2 linked regions of the Homo sapiens genome follow. The protein of the gene in region 2 interacts with the protein of the main gene of each other region in a pairwise test. Each region holds a gene or a part of one and is shown on either strand. Other genes may lie near its edges.

Region 1 (3,648 bases), on a different chromosome or scaffold from region 2:
TGGCCAATTCTTAAATTGTTTTTTCTTTTTGAGACAGAGTCTTGCTCTGTTGCCCAGGCTGGAGTGCAGTGGCGTGATCTCGATTTACTGCAACCTCCATCTCCCGGGTTCAAGCTATTCTTCTGCCTCAGCCTCCTGAGTAGCTGGGATTACAGGTGCCTACTCAAGTGATCCCCCTGCCTCAGCCTCCAAAAGTGCCAGGATTACAGCCATGCAGGCATGAGCCACTGTGTCCAGCCTATTACTTTTTTTTTTTTTTTTTGAGATGGAGTCTCACTCTGTTGCCCAGGCTGGAGTGCAGTGGCACGATCTCGGCTCACTGCAACCTCTGCTGACCAGGTTTACACCATTCTCCTGTCTCAGCCTCCTGAGTAGCTGGGACTACAGGCGCCCACTACCACGCCCGGCTAATTTTTTGTATTTTTAGTGGAGACGGGGTTTCACCGTGTTAGCCGGAATGGTCTCGATCTCCTGACCTCGTGATCCGCCCACCTTGGCCTCCCAAAGTGCTGGGATTACAGGCGTGAGCCACTGCACCCGGCCACTGTTTTTATATTTTAAATTTTGTCACTAAAAAGTTGTGAAAGTATGTTTTTTTCTCATCACGTAAGTCCCTATAAAATATCTTTGATTTTGCTCCGTGGCCTAGTTTGCTGACTCTGGCTGTAGACAGGGATAGCTCTTGCAACTCAAAGTCATTTAGACTATGCCTGATGCCCTGCTGATCCCCGACATCCTGCTGAGCCCCCTAAGGTATGGCAGGTGCCTCCAGCTGGGAGCTGTGCCTCCCCAACAGCCTGCTCTCCTCTATCTCAACAGCAGCCTGACCACTTCGCCAGCCAATCTGGGAATCAGGGTTACTCGCAATTTTTGCCCTCCCCCTGCACAGCGCTACTCCCAGTAATCCAGGCAAAACAAACGCCCTCTTGATCTCCCACCCCCTAAGTAGCCCAGAAACCCAGCCTCTCCTTCTGCCTTGCCTTTTTTTTTTGAGACATAGTCTCGCTCTGTCACCCAGGCTGGAGTGCAGTGGCGTGATCTCCACGCACTGCAAGCTCCGCCTCCTGGGTTCACGCCATTCTCCTGCCTCAGCCTCCCAAGTAGCTGGGACTACAGGCGCCCGCCACCACGCCCGGCTAATTTTTTGTATTTTTAGTACAGGGTTTTTGTATTTTATTTTGTATTTTGTATTTTAGAGACAGGGTTTCACTGTGTTAGCCAGGATGGTCTCGATCTCCTGACCTCATGATCTGCCCGCCTCGGCCTCCCAAAGTGCTGGGATTACAGGCTTGAGCCACCGTGCCCGGCCTGCCTTGCTTTTCTTTACCTTTAACAAGGATTATGGCAATGCCTCTCAATTCAATTCCCTCCCTTCCAATCCTTACTCCCCATGGGTGCTGCGCATCTTTCTAAAGCAATACTGGCAAGCACCTCTTCAGTTAAAGTCTTTAATGACTCCCAACTTGCAAGAGCAAGTCCAGACTCCCGCAAGCTAAGGGTTTTGCAGGCCCAGGGCTCCAGCTATGGGTAGAATGCAGCAGAGCCTGGTGAATGGAAGGATTTAACACTCCAGGATTTCACCCCACGGAAGCTGTGACTGAAAGTCTAGAACACAGAACTGGCTCCTCTAAGCACCACTGTGGGCAGTGCATTGCCATGCTGGGAGTAGGAAGAGACACTTGGCTTCTGAGTCTGCCTGGCCACCTTTCAGCCTGCACATCTCAACGCTGGCTTTATTCTTTCTATGTGCCATCACATATATACTGGTAATACATAAATGAGGAAAACAATGGTTTCTTTGTGAAAAATGGCTCCCCCACAAAGAAAGCCAATTTTTTTCTTTTTCTTTTTTTGAGACGGAGTCTAGCTCTGTCTCCCAGGCTGGAGTGCAGGGGCATGACCTCGGCTCACTGCAACCTCCACCTCCCTGGTTCAAGAGATTCTCCTGCTTCAGCCTCCTGAGTAGCTGGGATTATAGGTGAGCGCCACTACGCCCGGCTAATTTTTTTTTTTAGAGGGAGTTCTGCTCTTGTTGCCCAGGCTGGGGTACAATGGTGCGATCTTGGCTTACTGCAACCTCTGCCTCCCTGGTTCAAGCGATTCTCCTGCCTCAGCCTCCCAAGTAGCTGAGATTACAGGTGTGTGCCACCTTGCTTGGCTCATTTTGTATTTTTAGTAGAGACAGGGTTTCTCCATGTTGGTGAGGCTGGTCTCGAACTCCTGACCTCAGGTGATCCACCCTCCTTGGCCTCCCAAAGTGCTGGGATTACAGGCGTGAGCCACCGTGCCAGGCCTGATTTTTGTATTTTTAGTAGAGACAGGGTTTCATCATGTTGGCTAGGCTGGTCTTGAACACCTGACTTTGTGATCCGCCCACCTCAACCTCCAAAGTGCTGGGATTATAGGCGTGAGCCACCACGCTCAGCCAAGAAAGCCAATTTCTAGGGAGACTGAGAAAAGTGATAAGACAGTAGAGGTTTAAGAGAGGGTGGTTCCTGGTCAGAAACCAAGTCTTAAATAAGTTAGAGAATTTCAAATTAAGGGTGCATATGTGACAGGAACGCATGAGCTGTAAGTGGAAATGAGAACAAGCAGCTTGGAAAGCTGTCAGCAAGGACAAACAGGGCTTCCCAAGAGACAAAACTTCAGAGAAGGCCGAAGGGTTTGTGTGATAATGATGTACACAGGAAATGCATGACTGAACAGAAGTTTGATAGGAGAAACTTATTTTAAAAGCTTTTGAGGCCGAGGCGGGCAGATCACTAGGTCAGGAGATCGAGACCATCCTGGCTAACATGGTGAAACCCCATCTCTACTAAAAATACAAAAAAAATTTAGCCGGGCGTGGTGGCGGGTGCCTGTAGTCCCAGCTGCTTGGGAAGCTGAGGCAGGAGAATGGCGTGAACGTGGGAGACGGAGCTTGCAGTGAGCCGAGATCACGCCACTGCACTCCAGCCTGGGTGACAGAGCGAGATTCCATCTCAAAAAAAAAAAAAAAAAGCTTTTAAGTGGGCCAGGCACAGTGGCTCATGCCTGCAATCCTAGCACTTTGGGAGGCTGAGGCGGGAAGATCAGTTGAGCCCAGGTGGTTGAGATCAGCCTGGGAGACAAAGTGAGACCTTGTTTCTACAAAAAATACGAAAATTAGCAGTGCATGGTGGCCCATGCATGTAGTCCCAGCTACTTGGGAGGCAGAGGTGGGAGGGTTGCTGGATCCTGGGAGGTGGAGGATACAGTGAGCAGAGACTGCACCACTGCACTCCAGCCTGGGCGACAGAGCGAGACATTGTCTTAAAAAAAAAAAAAAAAAAAAGGCAAAGTTTTTAAGTGACAGTATTCCTGCATTTATGGATTAAAGGTTTTGACAGGATCACAAAAATTTTACTCACAATTTATTGCATTTTTTTTTTTTGAGATGGAGTCTCTGTCGCCCAGGCTGGACTGCAGTGGCTTGATCTTGGCTCACTGCAACCTCCACCTCCCGGGTTCATGCCATTCTCCTGCCTCAGCCTCCCAAGCAGCTGGGACTACAGGTGCCCACCATCACCCCTGGCTAATTTTTTGTATTTTTAGTAGAGACGGGGTTTCACCGTGTTAGCTAGGATGGTCTCGATCTCCTGACCTCGTGATCCGCCCACCTTAGCCTCC
Region 2 (3,648 bases):
AGCCAGGCAGGGCCGCACACTCCACACACTCCCTCTGCTGAGCTGCAGTCACTCCTCCCGTCAGGCACCTGCAGCCTCGTCCGGGGTAGAGGCCTCTGGCCTGGGCTCGCCTCCACTCTGAGACTGATGTGGAGCGCGCGGACGCAGCCTCTGGCACCTGAATTCAGCTCCTGCTTCTTCAAGGGTCAAGAGTAAGACGGGATATTTTCGTTCTGCAGTTTCACTAGAACACATTTCCACCCTACCTGGTGAAAAAATAGAGGCACAGGGCAGGGAGAGCTCTCCCCGAAGTCAGCCGCGCTCTAGAGACAGCAAGGAGGGCAGGGCACAGCCGATGGGGCTGGGAAGTCGATTCCATCTTCCGACCTGCCAGCATCATGATTTCATAACAGGCACAGAATGCCTCAGAACGCAGATTGAGCACAGTGGCTCATGCCTGTAAACCCAGCACCTTGGGAGGCCAAGGTGGGTTGATTACTTGAGTTCAGGAGTTTGAGACCAGCCTGGACAACATGGTGAAACCCCATCTCTACTAAAAATACAAAAATTAGCTGGGCGTGGTGGCACACGCCTGTAATTCCAGTTACTCAAGAGGCTGAGGCAGAAGAATCACTTGAACCCGGGAGGTGGAAGCGGCAGTGAGACACGATCGTGCCACTGCACTCCAGCCTGGATGACAGAGCGAGACTCCGTCTCAAACAAACAAAGAATCCCTGGACACAGCAATGCAGACACTACATGGCTCTGGACACTTCACCTCGTAAATGATTATTTCTGCTGGTGATACATGTTCAATGTAGAATATTTAAAGGGACAATACAATTATAAACCCATGAAAAATAAGATTCATTCACATCCATATTCAAGGAATCTTCACTAAGCACTCACAACACAACACAAAAATTTAAAAATGTCACTCAGGTTTAATATGTCAAGAATAAATGACAAAGTTCTCTGTCATAGAAATAAGTTTTTTGAAACCATTCATGCAAAATGTAGAATGATGTTGCAACAAAGTTAAATTGTGGCATATGCAGGTCTGTCCTGAGGAGGAAATTATTGATCAATACAGAACTTCCTTTTTTTTTTTTTTTTTTTTTTTGAGACAGTGTCTTGCTCTGTCGCCCAGGCTGGAGTGCAGTGGAGCAATCATGGCTTGCTGCAGCCTCAGCCTCCCAGGCTCAGGTGATCCTACCACCTCAGCCTCCGAGTAGCTGGGACTACAGCTGCATGTCACCATACCCGGCTAATTGTTTCTAGTTTTAGTACAGATGGGGTTTTGCTATGTTGCCCAGCCTGGTCTTCACTTCTGGACTCTAGCAATCCGCCTGCCTCGGCCTCTCAAAGTGCTGGGATTACAGGCATGAGCCACTGCACCAGCCCAGAATTTTCAGAGACATGTCCCAAACCTGGTCTAAGTACTTCTTTCTTTAGAAAATGAGATGCTGGTTGGACGATCACTTGAGTCCAGGAGCTCAAGACCAACTTGGGGCTGGGCTCAGTGGCTCACGCCTATAATCCCAGCACTTTGGGAGGCCAAAGTGGGTGGATCACCTGAGGTCAGGAGTTCAAGACCAGCCTGGCCAACATGGCAAAACCCCATCTCTACTAAAAATACAAAAATTAGCCGGGTGTCATGGCAGGCGCCTGTAATCCCAGCAACCCAGGAGGCTGAGGCAGGAGAATCACTTGAACCTAGGAGGCAGAGGTTGCCATGAGCGGAAACCGTACCGTTGTACTCAAGCCTGGGTGACAGAGTGAGACTCCGTCCCCCAACCAAAAAAAAAAAAAAAAAAAAGCCCAGGCGCAGTGGCTCACACCTGCAATCCCAGCACTTTGGGAGGCCAAGATGGGCGGATCACAAGGTCAGGAGATCGAGACCATCCTGGCTAACACCGCGAAACCCTGTCTCTACTAAAAATACAAAAAATTAGCCTGGCGTGGTGGCGACCGCCTGTAGTCCCAGCTACTCGGGAGGCTGAGGCAGAAGAATCACTTGAACCCAGGAGGCAGAGGTTGCAGTGAGCCAAGGTCACGCCACCGCACTCCAGCCTGGGTGAGAGAATGAGACTCCGTCTCAAAAAAACAAAAGAAAATGAAATGCTGTCCTAATTTCTGCAATTTCAATTTGAAATATCAATGCTTGCAAAACTCATACAAGTTAAAACAATTTTTATTTCTAATGACCTGTATCTATTAAATGTCTGTGATGTACCAAGAATAAAGCAGAACACACTTCCTCATTAACACACATGCACCCAAAGTTAATGCAAAGGGTGATGAGAGACAAAATCTACACTCAAGGTTGTTGGGTAATCTAATCCTTAAATCTTCTGGGTTGAACTGCCTGTGACTGATAACAGACTAGCTGCTAATCCTCTTCAGGGATGTCATTATCTGAGGGGTCCTGGCATGGCAGTCCCAGCTCCTAGATTAGGGGTGGCATTTTCATAAAACAAGACTATTACTGTTTTTCAGCCTCTTTGTCCCTTCTATTTAGGAAGCAGGTGATGAGACACCTTTCATTTACTGCCTCCTTTTTTCTCCCAGCAGGACGCAGGGGAAGCACCACTACCCTCATCTGACAGAACGCAGAGGCTCAGAGTCACAGCGGCCCCAGTCACGTGAGCCCTGATCTTGTCCTCTTTCACGAAGGAAGGCCTAGCACAGATTCTGCTGCCACAGTGGGAAGGCCTATGGCGGGGCAGGAGGTGTGTCTGACAGAAGACGGTGCTTCTTGGACACATCTCAGGACTTTGTGGCACGAGAACGTTCTAATCAGAACATCACGATGAGTCTCACCTTAGAAGCACTGCAGTTTGTTTGTTTGTTTGTTGTGAGAGGGAGTCTCGCTCTGTCGCCCAGGCTGGAGTGCAGTGGTGCTATCTCAGCTCACTGCAACCTCTGCCTCCCGGGTTCAAGCAATTCTCCTGCCTCAGCCTCCCTAGTAGCTGGAATTACAGGTGCCCGCCACCACACCCAGCTATTTTTGTATTTTTAGTAGAGACAGGGTTTCACCATGTTGGCCAGGATGGTCTCGATCTCTCGATCTCAAGATCTGCCCGCCTCGGCCTCCCAAAGTGCTGGGATTACTGGTGTGAGCCACCGTGCCCGGCCTAGAAGCACTCATTCTAACTGCCCACTTGGAGATAACTGGAGTGTTAAGGGTCTCTTCTCTATGTCTTGTGCAGGGCTAGCCACCATGTTCCATTTCTCTACAAATGGCTTTTTCCAACCCAGCCCGAGGACCCAGGGGTCTGTTTCCTTCCTGGAGAAATACTGCTTTCATTTGCTGTTACAGTTTACCTGCAGCATTACATACTCCTAACTGGGTATCACATTCACCTTACTGCCTGATTTCAGAAGCAAACTCCACCTCAGATAAAATTCTACCTTATCATGACTCCCCGCCCCACTGCATTTTAGTCATTCATTCAACAAACACCAACTGCTAACCCCAGGCACACACGTGAGCACCTCACATCTGGGCTCTAAGGATAAAACCACCAGCACCTTGTACAGGGCTCTTCCTGGTGATGCCAAATACTTAGAAGAAACCTGGTCTAGAGAAGACTCGAGTTCAAGTTCCAGCTCTGACGATTGTTAACAGGGAGACCTTGGGCAAAGGTGCTGGTCACGGAGGCAGCT

The links. The genes of interacting proteins can lie anywhere in the genome.
Region 1: the proteins of DNAJC5 (region 2) and SNAP29 come close enough for resonance energy transfer, tested with the Homo sapiens proteins (one study listed by BioGRID).

What each region holds. Positions count from the first base shown.
Region 1 is NC_000022.11:20,875,921-20,879,568, reverse strand, and holds part of SNAP29 (synaptosomal-associated protein 29), read right to left. Parts: intron 1-3,648. UniProt on the Homo sapiens protein: SNAREs, soluble N-ethylmaleimide-sensitive factor-attachment protein receptors, are essential proteins for fusion of cellular membranes.
Region 2 is NC_000020.11:63,898,031-63,901,678, reverse strand, and holds part of DNAJC5 (dnaJ homolog subfamily C member 5), read right to left. Parts: intron 1-3,648. UniProt on the Homo sapiens protein: Acts as a general chaperone in regulated exocytosis. Acts as a co-chaperone for the SNARE protein SNAP-25. Involved in the calcium-mediated control of a late stage of exocytosis. May have an important role in presynaptic function.